Linked DNA regions of Homo sapiens. The protein of the gene in region 2 interacts with the protein of the main gene of each other region in a pairwise test. Each region holds a gene or a part of one and is shown on either strand. Other genes may lie near its edges.

The links.
Region 1: the proteins of VAMP4 (region 2) and SYT2 interact in binary tests that used the Homo sapiens proteins (3 or more experiments, as listed by UniProt).
Region 3: the proteins of VAMP4 (region 2) and GLE1 interact in binary tests that used the Homo sapiens proteins (3 or more experiments, as listed by UniProt).
Region 4: the proteins of VAMP4 (region 2) and TM4SF19 interact in binary tests that used the Homo sapiens proteins (3 or more experiments, as listed by UniProt).

Annotation. Positions count from the first base shown.
Region 1 is NC_000001.11:202,703,178-202,708,185, forward strand, and holds part of SYT2 (synaptotagmin-2), read right to left. Parts: intron 1-5,008. UniProt on the Homo sapiens protein: Exhibits calcium-dependent phospholipid and inositol polyphosphate binding properties. May have a regulatory role in the membrane interactions during trafficking of synaptic vesicles at the active zone of the synapse.
Region 2 is NC_000001.11:171,717,373-171,722,380, reverse strand, and holds part of VAMP4 (vesicle-associated membrane protein 4), read left to right. Parts: intron 1-3,159; coding exon 3,160-3,210; intron 3,211-5,008. UniProt on the Homo sapiens protein: Involved in the pathway that functions to remove an inhibitor (probably synaptotagmin-4) of calcium-triggered exocytosis during the maturation of secretory granules.
Region 3 is NC_000009.12:128,527,988-128,532,995, forward strand, and holds part of GLE1 (mRNA export factor GLE1), read left to right. Parts: intron 1-623; exon of another isoform or gene 624-1,013; intron 1,014-4,677; coding exon of another isoform or gene 4,678-4,704; intron 4,705-5,008. UniProt on the Homo sapiens protein: Required for the export of mRNAs containing poly(A) tails from the nucleus into the cytoplasm. May be involved in the terminal step of the mRNA transport through the nuclear pore complex (NPC).
Region 4 is NC_000003.12:196,324,941-196,329,119, reverse strand, and holds part of TM4SF19 (transmembrane 4 L6 family member 19), read left to right. Parts: intron 1-1,528; 5' UTR 1,529-1,529; coding exon 1,530-1,730; intron 1,731-2,087; coding exon 2,088-2,165; intron 2,166-3,549; exon of another isoform or gene 3,550-4,179. UniProt on the Homo sapiens protein: Negatively regulates vacuolar (H+)-ATPase (V-ATPase) activity by interacting with members of V-ATPase V0 complex and hence inhibiting V1-V0 complex assembly. Required for multinucleation during osteoclast differentiation.

The DNA.
Region 1 (5,008 bases), about 31 Mb from region 2:
CACTGGCTGACCTTGGGGAAGGCATTTCTGGTCTGGAAAGGAAAAAATGAGCACCACCTCTTTGACGCTACCACCCTCCCACCCCCGGCCACCGCTCCCCTCCCTCCGCCGCCCATACACATGGCCCTACCCAGCTCAGCCCTGCAATACCACAAATGCCTCATTTGACTTCAGAGGAAAATGGAGCTAAGAGTAGGAGTGAGGAAGGGAGTAAAAAGAAGGGCGGGGGAAGGAACAAGTGGGGAGGGAGAGATGAAGGTACAAGGTACCCTCTCCTGTCTCTCACATGCACACTACTGCAGGTGGTTACAACTCTTTTCTGTTTCTCCACAGCTGAGCAGGAAACTGGGAGAAGAGCCCTTCTCCCCTGCAGCCTCTCCCTCTTGGCCTCCATCACCACTCTCCTAACCCCTGCCAAGCCCTGCATCTGATCCTACCTGAGCTAAAGAAGCAGAAGGTCCGGAGGGAGCCTGTGATTTTTGCCTCGGTCACCTCTTACAAATGCGGTGGGCTGCTGGGCTCGCCCTAACCCTGCATCACCCCCAGGCTGCTCCTTCAGTCTACTCGGGTATGGAAAGGGTTAAGCTCCTCCCATCCCCTCCTTCCTTCATCCCATTTCTCCATTCACTTCTATTTTCCCATATGCCTAGTGCCAAGCTCACAGTTACAACCACTTACACCCTGTATTAAGATGCATGGAATAGTAATGGGTAAATTCCGTCTCTAATTGCAATATTTCCTAATTACTAAATTCCAGAGCCACTGTATCAACCCAATTATGGCAAGTCCTGCCAGAGTTCTCCATGGTCTGAGGACTCCCTGCCTTACTGAGAGGCACCTGACAAATGCCTCGGGGGAGCTTTCCTGACTCCCCACCCAGCTGCTGTCCTCCCCTGGTCCCAGACTGTCCAGTGATGAGGCCCTTGGGCTTCTAGTTTCTCTGCAGGGGATGGGAGGAAGTGAAGCAAGCTTTGTGATTGAGGAAAGCCTTGTGTTGACAGGCGACTATCCTGGGGTTGGAGAGCATCTGGGAGCCCTGTCACTCTGCACCAGCCACCATCAATGCTCCCAGCTTCAGAACTCCACTTTGGGGGCTAGGGGGACCCAGGAGAGGAGGAGAAACAACATGCCCTGGCCTTGGGGAGCGCCCAGGCTGATAGAGGAGACACGGTTATTTTGAGTTCTCCTTTACATCCCAGGTGCCTTTTACAGAGTAGGTGCTTAGTGCATTGGAGTGGAACGTGGAGGAAAAGGCGGGAGGAAAGTAGGAAGTAAGGAAGGAATGGGGTGCTCTGGCTCAGGCTGAGTTTAGACTCTGGCTACACCTGCACGCAAGGGTTGACTTTTGGGCTGTGAGTCCCATAGGGATCTGACTTCTCAGGTCTGGAGTCTCCGAAGGAGAGAAGCAGTCACACACCCACTAACTCCCATTCTCCCTGCCTTTGCAAGGGGCCCTCCTCCCCAGCCCACCCCTAGGACCCTGAATACACACATATGCACACACACACGGCTGCTGGGCTTCAGAGGAGCCGTTTAATTGCCGAGTTGAAACCTGCAAGGGCTTTTGGTGCTGATGACATCAGCATGCCATCACAGATAGGGCTGCTGAGGCTGGAGCAGCTCTGGATTCAGCGGGGTGTCCCATCATGCACTCAAGACTGCCCACCCTGGGGCCTCCCTCCTTGCTTCAGAGCAGGTGTTCCTGAAGGAGGTGCCAGAGCCCTTATGGAGAGCCCAAGGAAACCCAACATCAGGGAGGGAGAGCTGATTCAATTCCTCCAAGGAATCACTGCCTAATTTTTGTAAAGGCTGCTGCCTGATTTAAATCACCCAGCCTCCTGCTTCTACTCAACGCGTTAGTGGCCTCATCCCAAGGACCCGCACCTGTATTCTCGGGCTCCATTTGCCATAGGTAGAGCTGGTGAGAAGCGGCGAGGAGAGGAGGAAGGGTTCTGACCACTCAGCTGCTGTGGCCTGGAAGGCCCCCTGCAAAGTGCCTATGATCTGGGGATTTTGAACAACCACACAACTTCTCTGGGGATTTTGAACCACACAACTTCTCTGGGCCTTTGCCCGTTCATTGTAAAGTGGGGACAGCGATGGCGTAGCCGAGGACTGCAGTGATGAGAGCTTGACCGCCCTTGTGAGCCGCTCTATCCCCGAGCAGGGGAGCAGGAGGCGCAGGGAGGAGCCCTGAGGTTCCCTGTTGTGCGGGACCCACACTGACTTTGCCCTTTCTTATGCCTGATGCTTAGTGTTACTGACAGCAAAAGCTGAAATCCTGAGGTCCCCGGCTAAAGTGACCAAGGAAGGGCCTCTCCTGACTTTACAGCAGCAGGTAACCCCCCTTTCTTTCAGATTTGGAGGCTGCTTGGCCATTTTAATGGACCCTGCTACTCACATCCTACTTCCCTAAGTGTGAGGGGCTTTCAGAATCTAACCTCCTCCCTGGCACTCAGCCAGCAGGGACTTTATCCTCATCAGAAAATGATCCAGGGAGGAAGCTTCTACAATATCTACTGCTCATCTTGGATTTTGGGAGTCCTTTTTTTTTTTTTGAGACCGGATCTCACTGTTTTCCAGGCTGAAGTGAAGTGGCATGACCATAGCTCACTGCAGTCTCGACCTCCTGGGCTCAGGCGATCCTCCTGCTTAACCTGGTGTGCCACCATGCCCAGCTAATTTTTAAATTTTTTGTAGAGACAGGGTCTCCATATGTTGCCCAGCCTGCTCTGGAATTCCTGGGCTCAAGCGATCCTTCTACCTCAGCCTCCCAAAGCGCTGGGATTACAGGTGTGAGCCACTGCACCTGGCCTGGGGAGTCCTTCTGGATGTTTAATTTTAGACCCAGCCTCTCTAGGGGAGGGGGCTGGCAGCTAGGTGTTCCCCTGCCCTCCAGGCTCACAGTGACTCTCAGGTCCCTCTGGGCCTGGATCCAAATTTACCCATCACTCTGGCTACTTCCTTGAACTGTCAGTTCCAGAGATGAAAATGAAGGATTGCTGGGACAAATCCTTCCCAGAAATCAAGCTTTGGCAAGAAAAGACTCATTAGGCATAAAAACCGTCTTCGAGTGAGGGGGATGAAATGCAGGACTGACCACCAAGACGGTGAGGGCAACTCCTTCCCTTGAGTTTTAAGAATATCAAAGGTGGACAGTGCTCCCTGCAGCTGGAGAACCCAAGACAGTGTTGTGTGTGTGGGCAGGAAAAGGAGCACGCAGGCCACCCAAGGATGAAAAGCACTTACTCCTCCCGCGCCAGGCACTGTTCTACACGCTTTACAGGAATTAACCCATTTCATCCTCACCAAGAACAATCTACGTCATAGTTACAAATTTTAGCTCCATTCTACAGATGGCAAGACTAAAAAACAGAGTGTGATTGACTCGCCCAAAATCACAGCAAGTGGCAGAACCAGGATGAACCCTGGCAATCTGGCTGTAGTCACTATACTGCCACTTAGAAAAAAATCTCTGACTTGATGTTTCTCCAATGAAACTATATTATTTATCACAGGCTTCTGGAGTCCAGGAGAAGCCATAACTGAATCCCAGCTTCTCTGGCCTGGCTTCTCTGACTGAGTGGAAGATGAAGAATCAACTTGTTGCCTATGGATGGATTATTCACGTAGGGAATTTAGAACTGCATCTGTCTGGTGGTCCAGGGGCTACTTCTAAAATAACACGAATAGTTATCAGTTCTACAATACTACCCTGAGAGTTAAGCATTATTACCTCTGTTCTTTAGAGAAAACTGTGCAGACATTGTCAGATCATCCTGTTACATGCTCTCGAAGCTTCCTACATACCTTCATAACTCTTGGCACAGTCATGATGAATTCTTTATGTAATTATCTAATTGTGTGGTATTCACTAGATTGTAAATGCCACGAGGGCAGGAAACAGGTCTGTTTTGTTCCCACCTGAATCTCCATTGCCTAGCACAGATTCTCAAAATGCAATAGTGGAACGAATGCAGAAGGGATGCTGAGTGGCTCAGTAACATGTGTAGGGCCTGCGGCTGTGCTCACCTCCCCACCCAGAGAGACTACAATAGTGGCACATGGTAGGTACTCACTAATAAAATACTTGTTGCAAATGTCAGACTTTGTACTTAGCAGCCCTGGGATTTGAACCCAGGCCTGTCTATCTCCTAGCCTCCATTCTTTGGTGCTTCATATTTAACCACTGCACTGAGTGACCCTGCCCCCCCATTACTCCCTCTGACTTGCTGTTCCAGTTCTTAAAGAGTATCCCCACCACCCTGGACCTTCAGTGGTGGGGATACTCTGGCTTCAGCTAGGACCTGCCTAGACTGGGGAAGTCCACAGAGCAAATCCCAAAGCCAAGTGAAGTAGTGTTTCTACTCATCTGCAGCCTTAAGTCCTCCACGAGGATGCTTCTGTCCAGGGAAGGGAATGATGGTCATTCTTCCAGGCAAATGAAGCCCAACCTCCTCCCACTCTGTCCTCACTGCCTTCTGTCCCCCTGCTTCCAGTGCACTCACTGCCCCTCTATCTACTCTCCCCTGAGAGGGCGGCACAGGCCTGGCGGGGAAGAAAAAGGAGACCCCATTGAGATATGATAATGTTCAGATGGAGGCAGAAAGAATGACTAGAGGTCAGGCTTGCCTAGGGGCTGGGGAACACTGGGGTAGCCTGGTCCCCAGGGCTTGAGAAGGGCAAGGAAGAGGCTTCTCCAGCCACCTCCAAAGCCCACCCCCAGGTCTCTGCAGTATCATAGACAGCCCTGTCACACCTGCCTGGAAGCTGCCTAAGGGTAGAAGGAATAAAACGAGCTCCAGCTGCAATGTGAGGGCAGGTGAGCCCAGACCCAGCTCCAGAAAGGGTCTCCTCGGCCCTGCGAGGTCTTCAGCAAGGTACATGCTTTGCCCAGGTGAAACCAGCTTCAGTCCTAAATTGAAGCCAGTTGCAAGCTTCTCTAGGTGAAAAGTCAATGTTTACGAACACCAACACTTTTTGCTTCCCCTGGTCCTGTTCTGCGGAT
Region 2 (5,008 bases):
ACATTGCTTTTGGTGTTTTATTCATGAAATCCTTGCCCATGCCTATGTCCTGAATGATATTGCCTAGGTTTTCTTCTAGGGTTTTTATGGTTTTAGGTTTAACATTTAAGTCTTTAATCCATCTTGAATTAATTTTTGTATAAGGTGTAAGGAAGGGATCCAGTTTCAGCTTTCTACATATGGCTAGCCAGTTTTCCCAGCACCATTTATTAAATAGGGATTCCTTTCCCTATTTCTTGTTTTTGTCAGGTTTGTCAAAGATCAGATGGTTGTAGATGTCTGGTATTATTTCTGAGGGCACTATTCTGTTCCATTGGTCTATATCTCTGTTTTGGTACCAGTACCATGCTGTTTTGGTTACTGTAGCCTTGTAGTATAGTTTGAAGTCAGGTAGCGTGACGCCTCCAACTTTGTTCTTTTGGCTTAGGATTGTCTTGGCAATGTGGGCTCTTTTTTGGTTCCATATGAACTTTAAAGTAGTTTTTTCCAATTCTGTGAAGAAAGTCATTGGTAGCTTGATGGGGATGGCACTGAATCTATAAATTACCTTGGGCAGTATGGCCATTTTCACAATATTGATTCTTCCTATCCATGAGCATGGAATGTTCTTCCATTTGTTTGTGTCCTCTTTTATTTCGTTGAGCAGTGGTTTGTAGTTCTCCTTGAAGAGGTCCTTCACATCCATTGTAAGTTGGATGCCTAGGTATTTTATTCTCTTTGAAGCAATTGTGAATGGGAGTTCACTCATGATTTGGCTTTCTGTTTGTCTGTTATTGGTGTATAGGAATGCTTGTGATTTTTGCACATTGATTTTCATAATTTCTGATGCTACTAAAAATGACATTTCAGATGGTGTTTCAAAATTTTAAAATGTCATACTTATTGCTAGTATAAATATCATTTTGTAAATTAACCTTGTATTCTACAATCTTGCCAAACCCACTTAGTTTTAGTAGTGTTTTTATATATCCTACTGGATTTTCAACATAGAACAATTATGCTTTCTGCAAATAAAGACAGTTTTATTTCCTCCTCGTCTATGTTTGCCTTTTATTTTTTATTAGCTTATTGCTCTGATTAGAACATCCAGCACAATATTGAGTAGAGGTGGTGAGAGGGAATATCCTTGCTTTGTTCCTGATCTCCTTTAGGGGAAGCATTCATCTTTCATATTATGTTTCATTTTCATTGCATGTTGTTACTGTTGTTGTGTGTAGATTTATCAGGTTGAAGAAGTTTCCTCCTATTCCTAGTTTGTGAAGAGTTTTTATCATTAGCTGACGTTGGATTTTGTCAAGCATTTATTTTGTATCTATTGAGATGATCATTTTTTTTGGTCTGTGAATGTGTTGAATTATGTTGATTTTGAAATTTTAAACCGTCGTTGCATTTGTGATATGAACCCTACTTGGTCATCATGTATTATTCTTTTAAAACATTGTTAGAATCAATTTGTTAAGAGTTTGTTAAGAATTTTTGCATCTATGTTCATTAGAGGTATTGGTTGGTTGATAGTTATGTCTTTTTCTTGTTGTGTCTTTATCTGGTTTTCGTGGTAGGTTCATACTGGCCCTGGATAATGAGTTGGGAAAGTTCTGTCTTTTTTAGTTTTCCAGAATAGTTTGCATAGAATTCTTATTTTTTCTTCATTAAATGTTTGGTAGAATTGACAACTGAACAAATCTAGTCCTGGAATTTTCTTTGGGGGATTTTTTAAAAATAATTTTAGACCCACAGAAGGGTTGCATAGATAGTATAGAGAGTTCCTATCTACGCTTCACTTAGCTTCTGTTAATAAATCTTATATAACCATGGTACATTTGTCTGTAGTGATGTTCACTCTTCCATTCCTGTTACTAATTTATGCCTTCTTTCTTTTTTTCCTAATCAGTCTGGCTAGAAGTTTATCAAGTTTTAATTTTCAAAGAACCAGCTTTTCATTTTGTGTTTTTCTATAAGTATTTTGAAGTCTCATGTTACTTGATAGATGAAACAGACATAGCTCCTGCTTTTTTTTTAACCTGTAGTGGGGATCATTTTAATTCAGTACTTTTCAGATTCTATTTCACTTTATAGTTTCCTCATTTAATGACTGCTTTTCTTTGTTTTTCGGTTGACCAGCTCTTGTAAGTTCTTGCCTAGTTTTTAGGAATGGCCTCTGGTTCAGAATATTAGTTTTCTCTATGAAATTCAATGTTTAACATCACTTTGGAATGGAATACTGTTCCAGTATTCTGAGGCTTAGTTGGAGCTTAAAAGACTTTAAGGAAAAAGCTTAGAGGAACTAAGGCAAGATGATATATTCACACTTATACATTATGTTAAATAAGTTTCAGTAAACAGTTTTTTTTTCCAAAATTTTTTTATCAATTGCTGTATTTTTTCACCTCCTTTAGAAATTGCCATGTCTAGAAATCTAAGAACCTGGTTTCTTTTGAGTTTTGTAGTTTATGTCTTATTTATTCTGTATCTCCGGAAGAATCATGATTACTTTAAATAACCAAATGTTTTCATTTCAAGAATATTAAAATGGATTGGTTAAGGTGTGATATACACTCAACTACAATAAGGAGATAATAATCTGAGTAATGTTAAAATTTTCTTAATATCTTGCATTTCCCTTTTGCTATGTTGATAAGTTTAAGATGAATAATCAAAAACATACTTAAAATTGTTAGTGTCTTCAATGAATTTTTCTCTATATCCATCTTTGTCAATCGGCAGTTCACTTTGTAGTTTCCTCATTTCATTATAGTCTAAATTCAAGATGAATTGCGCTTTTAGTTCTACAGTTGACCATAAAGATATTAATATTCACTAGCAGTTAAGTAGTTAGGATATTTCAGAGTTTAATGATCAGAACAAATTCTGTGTAAGTTTGTTATATAAGATAATATAAACCCTAATTTCTCTGAAAGTTTTAACATGCAGAAGAATTAGCTTAATTGTGGCTAGTAATAAGTGCCAATGAAGTAAAGACATGATTACCTATTATTCAGTTTCACCAGTATCAGTAAAATGTGGTCCCTTATGATAAATAACTGATCCATGTTTAGAGTTCAGCTTGATTGTTTGTATTTGTGTATACTTTCTATCTTTTTTTTGTTTTGTTTTAATCCTGTCACTACTAATATGTACTTGGTATGTACTTGTTTTCAGAAGGGGACCATCTGGACCAAGATTTGGACCTAGAAATGATAAAATTAAGCAGTAAGTTTTGTTCATTTGTTTAAATGATAATCATATTTCTGTGTAGACTAGAGATTGGCAAACTGCAGCCTGTGAGCCAAATCTGGCTGCAGCCTGTTTTTGTAAATAAAGTTTTATTGGAACATAGCCATGCCCATTTGTTTTCATATTATCGATAGGTACTTTCAAGCTACAATGGCAAAGTTGAGTAGTTGTGACAAAGCTGTGTCACATTTTATGGCCCACAAAATCTAAAATATCTGCTGAGTGTCTGGTCCTTTACAGAAAAAGTTGTTGACCCCTGATGAAGACTAAATATAACTGCTGGGTTATAAAAACCTAATTCATTTTATTTTCTCAGAATTATAGCTAAGGAAATGCAGGATTGTTGGTTTTTTTATGACTTGATTACCTTATGTCAAATCCATTTATTTAGCATAGTCTGAAGGTCTATTTTGGTTTTAAATCTGTAGCTTGATTCCTATTTTCAGAATGATAACAAAGGTAATATAATAGCTTTAATTTGTTGATGTACTGCATGTTTTTATCTACTTCCAGAATTTTTTCATATCTCTTATTTATCATAACCCATATATTGAACTAAGTTTTATGGCTAATTTGTGGTTTAAAACCTTTGAGGTATATATTATTTGGTGATAGATGAGTATAATATGCTGTAATCAATGTGTCTGATATCGGAAAGATATGAGTCCTGACTGGAGGGGAGAAGGAATAGACAGAGCAGTGAGTCACTTGAGGGAAGGCTCTGGAAACTGACCAAGCTGTAAAGACTAACTGTGGAATGTGAACTGCATGGCCCAGGTTCAAGACCTAAGGAGGGATAATAGTCACTACCCTAAGCCTGGGTATAGATGGCACATTGTGGGAAGGGTTCTATAATGAAGTATCTAGTTATTGGTGAGATACTTGGGCTTTACTCAGGTAGCTGTTGGTGTGAAGAAATATTTCCATACTTAGCCTAATTCTAACTAATGGATTTTGAGATATGGAACCAAAGAACCAATAAATGATTACAGGTACTAGACTGGGTGTATTAGTTTTCTATTGCCATGTAACAAATTACCATAAACTTAGCAGCTTAAAACAACACACATTTATCATCTCACAGTTTCCTTGGGTCAGGAGTTCAGGCACTTCTTAGGTGAGCCTTTTGCTCAGGTTTAACAAGATGGCAATCAGGGTATCACCAGGTATGACCAACTCAGGAAGTTATCAGAATTTATTTCCTGCAGCTATAGATGTCATGGTGCTTCTTTGAGGCCAGTAGAAGAGAGAATCTGTACTGTTTCAAGTCTCTTATTTGACTAAAGATACAACAAGCCACTTTTAGATGCAATTTATTACTTATATAGTAAAAGGAAGAGTAGCCAAAGTTAGTAGCTCTCAGGGTCATTGTCCTGCACACCAAAAATAATGATACAGCTGGGTGCAGTGTTTCACGCCTGTAATCCCAGCACTTTGGGATTCTCCTTCAAAGGAGGATTGTTTGAAGCCAAAAGTTTTGAGACCAGCCTGAGCAACAAAGTGAAACCCCCTTCTCTTAAAAAAAAAAGGGGAGGTCAATGGCTGCAGTACAAATTGTGGGATACTCTATTGCAAAGGAGCTATTTCTAGGCTGTGGTTTTTATAGTCTGCACATAGAGCCTGCAGAAAGTTTATACCGCATCAGAACCTGGGAGGTGATAAGAAACTGCCTTATGATAGTCTCATAAGGGAAACAGGGAGGTGGATGGAAGAAGACCTCATGAGCCACTCATTCTCTCATGTTCCAGGGAGATCACAAGCATTCTACCAGGAC
Region 3 (5,008 bases), on a different chromosome or scaffold from region 2:
TTTTTTTCTTTTTTTCTTTTTTTTTTTTTTGAGACAGAGTCTTGCTCTGTCGCCCAGGCTGGAGTGAAGTGGCGTGATCTCGGCTCACCGCAAGCTCCGCCTACCGGCTTCACGCTGTTCTATTCTCCTCCCTCAGCCTTCTGAGTAGCTGGGACTACAGGCGCCCACCACCATACCCGGCTAATTTTTTGTATTTTTAGTAGAGACGGGGTTTCACTGTGTTAGCCAGGATGTTCTTAATCTCCTGACCTGGTGATCCACCTGCCTCGGCCTCCCAAAGGGCTGGGATTACAGGCGTGAGCCACTGTGCCCAGCCCCCTTTTTTTTTTTTTTTGAGATGTAGTCTTGCTCTGTCACCCAGACTGGAGTGCAGTGGCGCAATCTCGGCTCACTGCAAGCTCTGCCTCCCGGGTTCACGCCATTCTCCTGCCTCAGCCTCCCAAGTAGCTGGGACTACAGCTGCCCGCCACCACGCCCAGCTAATTTTTTGTATTTTTAGTAGACACGGGGTTTCACCGTGTTAACCAGGATGGTCTCGACCTCCTGACCTTGTGATCCGCCCGCCTCAGCTTCCCAAAGCGCTGGGATTACAGGCGTGAGTCACTGCACCCGGCCTTTTTGACTCATTTTTAACAAGCTACCTTTTATGGCAAATTATTAGGATGGCTCTTAGCTTTGAAGTTGCAGTTTACTGCTGAAAACATCACTCAGGGAACCTAGGCTGTGACTTGCAGGCTTTGCTTCTGTCCTACAACATTAGCTTTTCCAAATTACTCCAAGCTCGCCTTGTTCATCCTCCAGGACTCCTTTTCTCTCCAGAGACTGAGGTTTAGAAAGTGAGAACCAGACAAGGAAGAAACTTCTTTAGAACCAGAGGTTCATTTGTATGGAGCTGTAGATGTGGAAGCCTCCAGATTATAGACTGAGCTGCCAGGTGGCTGGGGAGTGTGTGTGCAACTGGAACACTCCTCTGACGCATCGTGGGTTCCGTTCCCCGACTCACTTCTCATTGCCTGGAAAGCATAGGAAAATTTCAGTTCCTGCCCTTGATAGGCAGTCCAGCAAAACTTACATATGACTTTGCTGCCTGAAATTCTTTCTGGAACAGGGCAAGGTATAAATAAATAAATAACATATCACTTTTTGGAATTTAAAGTGCTGTGTCCTTTGATAGCAACAGCAAAGCAAGAGAGGTTGACTGGACAGCCACTCCACACCTCGATGGCCGTTCCCAGTTCCCCTCTGTTGACTGCAGACAGGGTCAGTACCTCCTTCATCAGGAAAATGGAGACATCCAGTGTGAGCTCCTCAGAGCCCCTCCACCACTGCACAGTGACATTTACCTCTTAGTCTCCTGTGTCACTGGATGAGGCGTCCTTGCTGCTGGGCTTACCCTTCCACCTCTGCCCTTGTTCCCTTTCCTTCCTGTCTCCTGTCAGACTGCCTCATCGTTTATTGCCTTTCCTGTTTTCTGTGATTACTCCTTTTTATAGGCTCCTCTCTCTCAGCCTGTAAATATATGTGAGCCCCTCACATCCTAACATGAGTCTCCCTTGATCCTATGTCTTCTAAGTGTTTGCTGATCTTCCTGAGGTTTCTGTTCGGCACTGTTGCTGCTTTCTCTGTGCAACTCTACTCCTTTGGCCTCCATGGTGCCATTACTTTCCAGGTTCTTCTCCTCCCTCCCTCACTACCCTTTCCTCTCTCTCTCTCCCTCTCTCCCTCTCTCTCTCTCCCCTTTGTGGGTTTCTTAGTCTTCTACCCCACTCTAATTGTAGGTGATTCCTAGGGATCTACTCTTTTTTTTTTTTGAGAGTCTCGCTCTTTCGCCCAGGCTGGAGTGCAGTGGCACTATATCGGCTCAGTGCAAGCTCCACCTCCCGGGTTCACGCCATTCTCCTGCCTCAGCCTCCCGAGTAGCTGGGACTGCAGGCGCCTGCCACCACGCCCGGCTAATTTTTTGTATTTTTAGTAGAGACCAGGTTTCAACGTGTTAGCCAGGATTTCAACGTGTTAGCCAGGATGGTCTCGATCTTCTGACCTCATGATCTGCCCACCTCGGCCTCCCAAAGTGCTGGGATTACAGGCATGAGCCACTGTGCCCGGCTGGGATCTACTCTTATCCTGCAGTTCTTTTCGTTCTCTCTACTTACAGGGCTTCAAACATTACCTGAATGCTGATGACTCCCAAACCTACCTCTGGTTTATTCCTTTCTTCTGAGCTTCAGATTCTCCAGCTTCAGCTACCTGAGGGACATCTCTGCCTATATGTCTCTTAGCTGCCTCAAGTTTAATGTGTTCAAATCCAAACCCATCATCTTCCTTAGCCCTCTTTGTCTGCTGTTTTCTCTTGAGTAATCAGTAGCACCATTATCTACTCAGTAATCTTAGCTGGAAACCTGGGAGTCATCTTTATGACTGCTGCCTCTCTTTCACTCACCACATCGAATTAGTCTATATCTTTGCCTTTTTTAATTTTTCTACACATTTCCTGACTCTCCCTTTGTCTCCATCAAGACTTTAAGTCCTTTAAGATCTTGTAGTCCAGCCAGACACAGAACATGCTCTAGTTAGTGCTCAGTAAGCGTTTAATGAATAGGAGGGAAGGATCACCTAATTCTTCTCTTTTTTAAAAAGGTGGGCCGGGCGCGGTGGTTCACGCCTGTAATCCCAGCACTTTGGGAGGCCGAGCCTGGCGGGTCACCAGGTCAGGAGATCGAGACCATCCTGGCTAACACGGTGAAACCCTGTCTCTACTAAAAATACAAAAAATTAGCTGGGCGTGGTGGCAGGCACCTGTAGTCCTAGCTACTCCGGAGGCTGAGGCAGGAAAATGGCATGAACCCGGGAGGCGGAGCTTGCAGTGCGCCGAGATAGCACCACTGCACTCCGTCCTGGGTGAAAGAGCGAGATTCCGTCTCAAAAAAAAAAAAAAGGTGGGCCGGGCACAGTGGCTCACGCCTGTAATCCTGTAATCCCAGCACTTTGGGAGGCTGAGGCGGGTGGATCACAAGGTCAGGAGTTCGAGATCAGCCTGACCAATATGGAGAAACCCTGTGTCTACTAAAAATACAAAATTAGCTGGGCATGGTGGTGCATGCCTGTAATCCCAGCTACTCAGGAGGCTGAGGCAGGAGGATCTCTTGAACCCAGGAGGCAGAAGTTGCGGTGATCTGAGATCACGCCATTGCACTCCAGTCTGGGCAAAAAGAGCAAAACTCCATCTCAAAAAAAAAAAAAAAAAAAAAGGTGGATGTCAGCTGGGCCCAGTGGCTCACACTTGTAGTCCCAGCACTTTAGGCGGCTGAGGTGGGTGAATCATAGGAGGTCAGGAGTTCAAGACCAGCCTGGCCAATGTGGTGAAACCCCATCTCTACTAAAATACAAATATTAGCCAGATGTGGTGGCAGGCGCCTGTAATCCCAGCTACTCGGGAGGCTGAGGCAGGAAAATCACTTCAACCCAGGAGCGGAGGTTGCAGTAAGCCAAGATCGTGCCATTGTACTCCAGCCTGGGTGACAGAGTGAGACTTCATCTCAAAAAAAAAAAAAAAAGTGGATGTCGCCGGGTGTGGTGGCTCACACCTGTAATCCCAGCATTTTGAGAGGATGAGGCAGACAGATCACTTGAGGTCAGGAGTTTGAGATCAGGCTGGCCAACATGGTGAAACCCCGTGTCTACTAAAAATACAAAAATTAGCCGGGCGTGGTGGCACACACCTGTAGTCCCAGCTACTTGGGAGGCTGAGGTGGAAGAATCACTTGAACCCGGAAGGCAGAGGTTGCAGTGAGGTGACATCGAACCACTGCACTCTAGCCTGGGTGACAGAGTGAGACTCCAGCTCAAAAAAAAAAAAAAAAAAAAAGATGGATGTCCATGAGTGGTTAGAATTAGAAGAAATCTTAAATAAGGACATGATGTTGCTGTGGCATGGGGAGGCCACGTCAGTCTAGGGTTGGAAGCTAACTAACTTTCCTCCTACCTAGAGAGGTATGGAGAGAGGCTAGATGCTAGATGGGGCATTCAGCCAGTGGGGTCCACATGGTTGGCTTTTTTTTTTTTTGATAAGAGAACTGAATGACAGGATATTTCTGAAACTTTTGTGACATTTCTTGAAGTGATTAGGAACTTGACAGGGTATTTCTCAACTGGAGATGCTGTATTAATTAAAACATTGACTTCAGGACTTCAGGTAATGGAAAGTAATTCAGATCTGCTTTGCTTTTTTTTTTTTTTTTTTTTTTTTTTTAGGGAGGAGATGGAGTCTTGCTTTGTCACCCAGGCTGGAGTGCAGTGGCACAATCTCGGCTCACTGTAACCTGCGCTTCCTGGGTTCAAACGATTCTCCTGCCTCAGCCTCCCCGAGTAGCTGGGATTACAGGCACCCGCCACCACACCTGGCTAATTTTTGCATTTTTAGTAGAGACGAGGTATCACCATGTTGGTCAGGCTGGTCTCGAACTCCTGACCACAAGTGATCTGCCTGCCTTGGCCTCCCAAAGTGCTGGCCCAGATCTGCTTAAGCAAAAAAAAAAAAGCATTTATTGGAAAGATAAAGAAATATCCTACAGAACCCAGTGGCAGGAATGAGGTGAGGTCTCAGGAGCTAGAAACTTTAGTTCTTTTTTCCTCTCTCATCTCATCTGTCCTCTCTACATCTCCATTCTTATTTTATAGATTGCCGTTCTTTGGTCTTCATGGCAGGTACGCAGCCCCCACTGCTTGTGAGTGTATGTGACACAGGGCCAGCTACCTCAAGGAAGTGACTCTTAGTTGACTGACTGGCTCAGCTTGACTGCCTCTAATCTAACTGTAGCTAGTGTGGGGGTGGAGCACACAAAATCTTTGGTACAAATATAGCTGTTACGAATCCACTTCTGTGTCTCTGAGGACGGAAGAAGGCAAGTCCTGAGAAGGGGGCATATCATCATGAGCTGGTTAGATCCTTTAGAAGGTTTTTCCTAGAGATGTGACTAACTCCTCTAGAGATACCAACCACAGTCCATGG
Region 4 (4,179 bases), on a different chromosome or scaffold from region 2:
ATACAAAAAATTACCGGGCATGGTGGCGGGCACCTGTAATCCCAGCTACTTGGGAGGCTGAGGCAGGAGAATCGCTTGAACCTGGGAGGCAGAGGTTGCAGTGAGCTGAGATCGCGCCACTGCACTCCAGCCTGAGCAACAGAGCGAGACTCCGTCTCAAGAAAAAAAAAAAATCATTTTTCCTGGACCGGGTCTGTTTCTGAGCTCCAGCCTGTTCCAGTAGTCCATATGTGTTTCCTTACGCGTGGCTTCAGTGTCTTCAATTACTGTAGCTTTGTAAGTCTTGAAATCACATGGCGTAAGTTCTCCAGCTTTGTTTGTTTTTCAGAATTGCTTTGGCTAATCTTCACAATTGCTTTGCATTTCCATATAAATTTAGATTCAGTTTGTCAATTTCTATAACAAAACTCTCCTAGGATTTTGACTGATATTGCTTTAAATCTTTGCATCAATTTAGGGAGAACATGTTAACTATTTTGAGTCTTCTGGTTCAGGAACATGGTATATGTCTCCATTTATTTAGGTCTCCATTAATTTTCTCAGCAATGCTTTGCAATTCTTACTATATAGGTCTTGCAAATATTTTGTTAAATTCATCCATATGTATTATATTTTTATGCTATTGTAAATGATATATTTTAATTTCAATCCTCAATTTGTCATTGCTTGTATATAGAAATACAATATAATTTTTGTATATTAATCTTTTATTCTATGACGTTGCTAAACTCACCTGTTAATTCTAATAAACTTTAGGATTTTCTACATAATGTGATCACATTATCTGTGAATAATAACAATGTTACTTTTTTTTTTTTTTAAGATGGAGTCTTGCTGTGTCACCCAGGCTGGAGTGCAGTGGCATGATCTCAGCTCACTGCAACCTCTGCCTCCCGGGTTCAAGCAATTCTCCTGCCTCAGTCTCCCCAGTAGCTGGGATTACAGGCACCCACCACCGTGCCCAGCTAATTTTTGTATTTTTAGTAGAGACGGGGTTTCACCATGTTGGCCAGGCTGGTCTTGAACTCCTGACCTCGTGATCCGCCTGCCTCAGCCTCCCAAAGTGCTGGGATTACAGGCCTGAGCCACCATGCCTGGCCGACAATATTACTTCTTTCTTTCCTATCTGTGTGGCTTTTGCTTCCTTTTATTTTCGTATTGCACTGGCCAGGACCAGTACAACGTTGAATAGAAGTGGAGACAATGGACATCATGAAGACACCTTTAAACATTTCTTTTTGTCAGAAATAATCACTGGCTGTAATAGAGGCATAAACAAAATATGATGGAATGCAAACTATGTATGTGTGAACAGGGGTTAGCAGAAAAGGAAACAATTAAATCCTAGTCACTGGGGAAGATTCCTAAGGAGCAGAGTTTTTAAGCAGGTTGCTTGGCTCTCATTGGTCTGACCCTGGAAGGTGGCGGTTTCTGTAGTCTGTTTCCCTCACCCATGATATGCTGCTGGAGTTCCCTTCCCCATCCCCCCACAGCAGAGCTGCTGCGACTCCCTTTCTATCTGTTCCAGGATGGTGTCCTCTCCCTGCACGCAGGCAAGCTCACGGACTTGCTCCCGTATCCTGGGACTGAGCCTTGGGACTGCAGCCCTGTTTGCTGCTGGGGCCAACGTGGCACTCCTCCTTCCTAACTGGGATGTCACCTACCTGTTGAGGGGCCTCCTTGGCAGGCATGCCATGCTGGGAACTGGGCTCTGGGGAGGAGGCCTCATGGTAAGTGTCCGGGGTTCCCTGAACGTGAACTCTCAAAGAGACCCCGGCGGGGAGCAGGAAGGTGGCATGGGAAGAGTGTTTTGATTCCTTGCAGAAAAGTTTATTCTAACAAGCTGATCTTGGGTCTGTAGAAGCTCTAAGAGACAGGAAGCCTAGCTTGGGACCAGGCAGGTCGGGTGTGAAAGTTAACATCCACAGCGTTAGATCAGGCTCGTCATACAAATGTGGGTCCCCAGAGTCAGAGTCAACAGGACTGCGTTCATGTGAGCTGCCAGCCACTCTAACAGCTGTGGGCAGCACCTAGAAACAGCCGGCAAAGTCGATTTCCCCATCTCAACATTCTTCTCTCTCCTGCAGGTACTCACTGCAGCTATCCTCATCTCCTTGATGGGCTGGAGATACGGCTGCTTCAGTAAGAGTGGGCTCTGTCGAAGCGTAAGCACCAGATTCCACTCTTCTAACACCCAGAATGTCTCCACCTCTATTACTCTAGAGGCAGGGCGGTAAAGAGGCAATTTTGGTCTTGGGGCCTGAAGTCAGGTCCTCACTGTGACCCTCAGTAACGCTAAGTTCTTGGGCAAGTTGCTTCATCTTTCCAGTTTCAGGCTTTCATCTGTAAAATGGGAGCTGATCAAGTCAAGGGAGTAGTGCTTAGTGAAGCCCAGACGTCTGTACCAGTGTGAGGACCCAGACGTCTGTACCAGTGTGAGAAACTGTTACTCTCTTAGGGTGTTGGACAATATGGACATGAGTTATGACACTGTAATCATGTGTCATTGATGGAAATTTTCCTAGTTATTTTAACTAATATTTTCTTAGAACAGGAAAGTTTTCCAGAGATCATCTAATCACTAGATTCTAATCTAACCCCTCCATTTTACAGATAAACTGAGGCCCAGAATAAATTTCTACCTTATTAATTACAGCAGCAACTGTATAAACTTGAAAGATCTCAGTATATGTGTGTGTAACAAACACACACACACACACACACACACACTCGTTCTCAGACATGAATCTGTGGCCTTATGGTAACTCCACAGCCTGCTCTGATATCTGCAGCCCACATGTTGGGAAGCCCACTGACTCAGTTACATGTTAAAAAATCAAATATAGGCCAGGCGCGGTGGCTCACGCCTGTAATCCCAGCACTTTGGGAGGCCAAGATGGGCGGATCACCTGAGGTCAGGAGTTTGAGACCAGCCTGGCCAACATGGTGAAACCCCGTCTCTACCAAAAATACAAAAATTAGCTGGGCGTGGTGGTGGGCGCCTGTAATCCCAGCAACTCAGGAGGCTGAGGCAGGAAAATCTCTTGAACCCGGGAGGCGGAGCTTGCAGTGAGCCGAGATGGCGCCACTGCACTCCAGCCTGGGCGACAGAGCGAGACTCCGTTTCAAAATAAATAAATAAATAAGTACATAGATAAATAAATAAACACTTGCACATTTCATTCACTGTCTGTTCTCATTCTGGTTTTCCCCGTGGCACGTAGTTCTGACACTTGAATGTGCATGAGAATCACCTGGAGGGCTTTTGCCGGAACACGGATTGCTGGGCTCCCTCCCCAGAGTTTCTGATTCAGGATGGCGGGGAAGTTTTGCATTTCTAACAGGTTCTCAGGTGATGTGATGCGGCTGGGCAGGGACCCCATTTTGGGAACCACTGCCCTAGGCTTACTGATTCATCTTGACTCCTTTAACTCAGAGTCAAAACTTACTATGCACCTTTGTCTGATCCCTCCCCAACTCCAAACCAGCTTGACCTCAGTGGGAGAATGACTCCATGACTCTGCAGAAAAACGCTATGTAGGTGTTATTCACATTTTTAAAATAGGCATTTTTGGGGGAGGGAGAAAAAAATCTAGAACCCTAAGAAAGAATCCAATATGGGCCGGGCACGGTGGCTCATGCCTGTAATCCCAGCACTTTGGGAGGCTGAAGCAGGTGGATCACAAGGTCAGGAGATTGAGACCGGCATGACCAACACAGTGAAACCCCATTTCTACTAAAAATACAAAAATTAGCTGGGTGTGGTGGCGCATGCTTGTAGTCCCAGCTACTTGGGAGGCTGAGGCAGGAGAATCGCTTGAACTCAGAGGCAGAGGTTGCAGTGAGCTGAGATCGTGCCACTGCACTCCAGCCTGGGCGACAGAGTGAGACTCTGTCTCAAAAAGAAAGAGAGAGAGAGAAAGAAGGAAGGAAGGGAAGGAAGGAAGGAACGAGAAAGAAGCCAATGTAGAAGCAGGCTAGAAACCTGTCAAGGAAGGAAACCCAGTTATTTTCTGGGAGGGCAGTGGGAGCACAGACTGATGGCCAAGAAAGCTCTCAGCTGGAGAAACACAGCGACAGAAGTGGAGTCATTTCAGAGCTTGGCTGCAGCTTCTCTCTCGCTGTTTCTCTCCCTTCTTTCCCTCCCTCCCACTTCTCTCCTTCCCTTCTTTCCTGCTT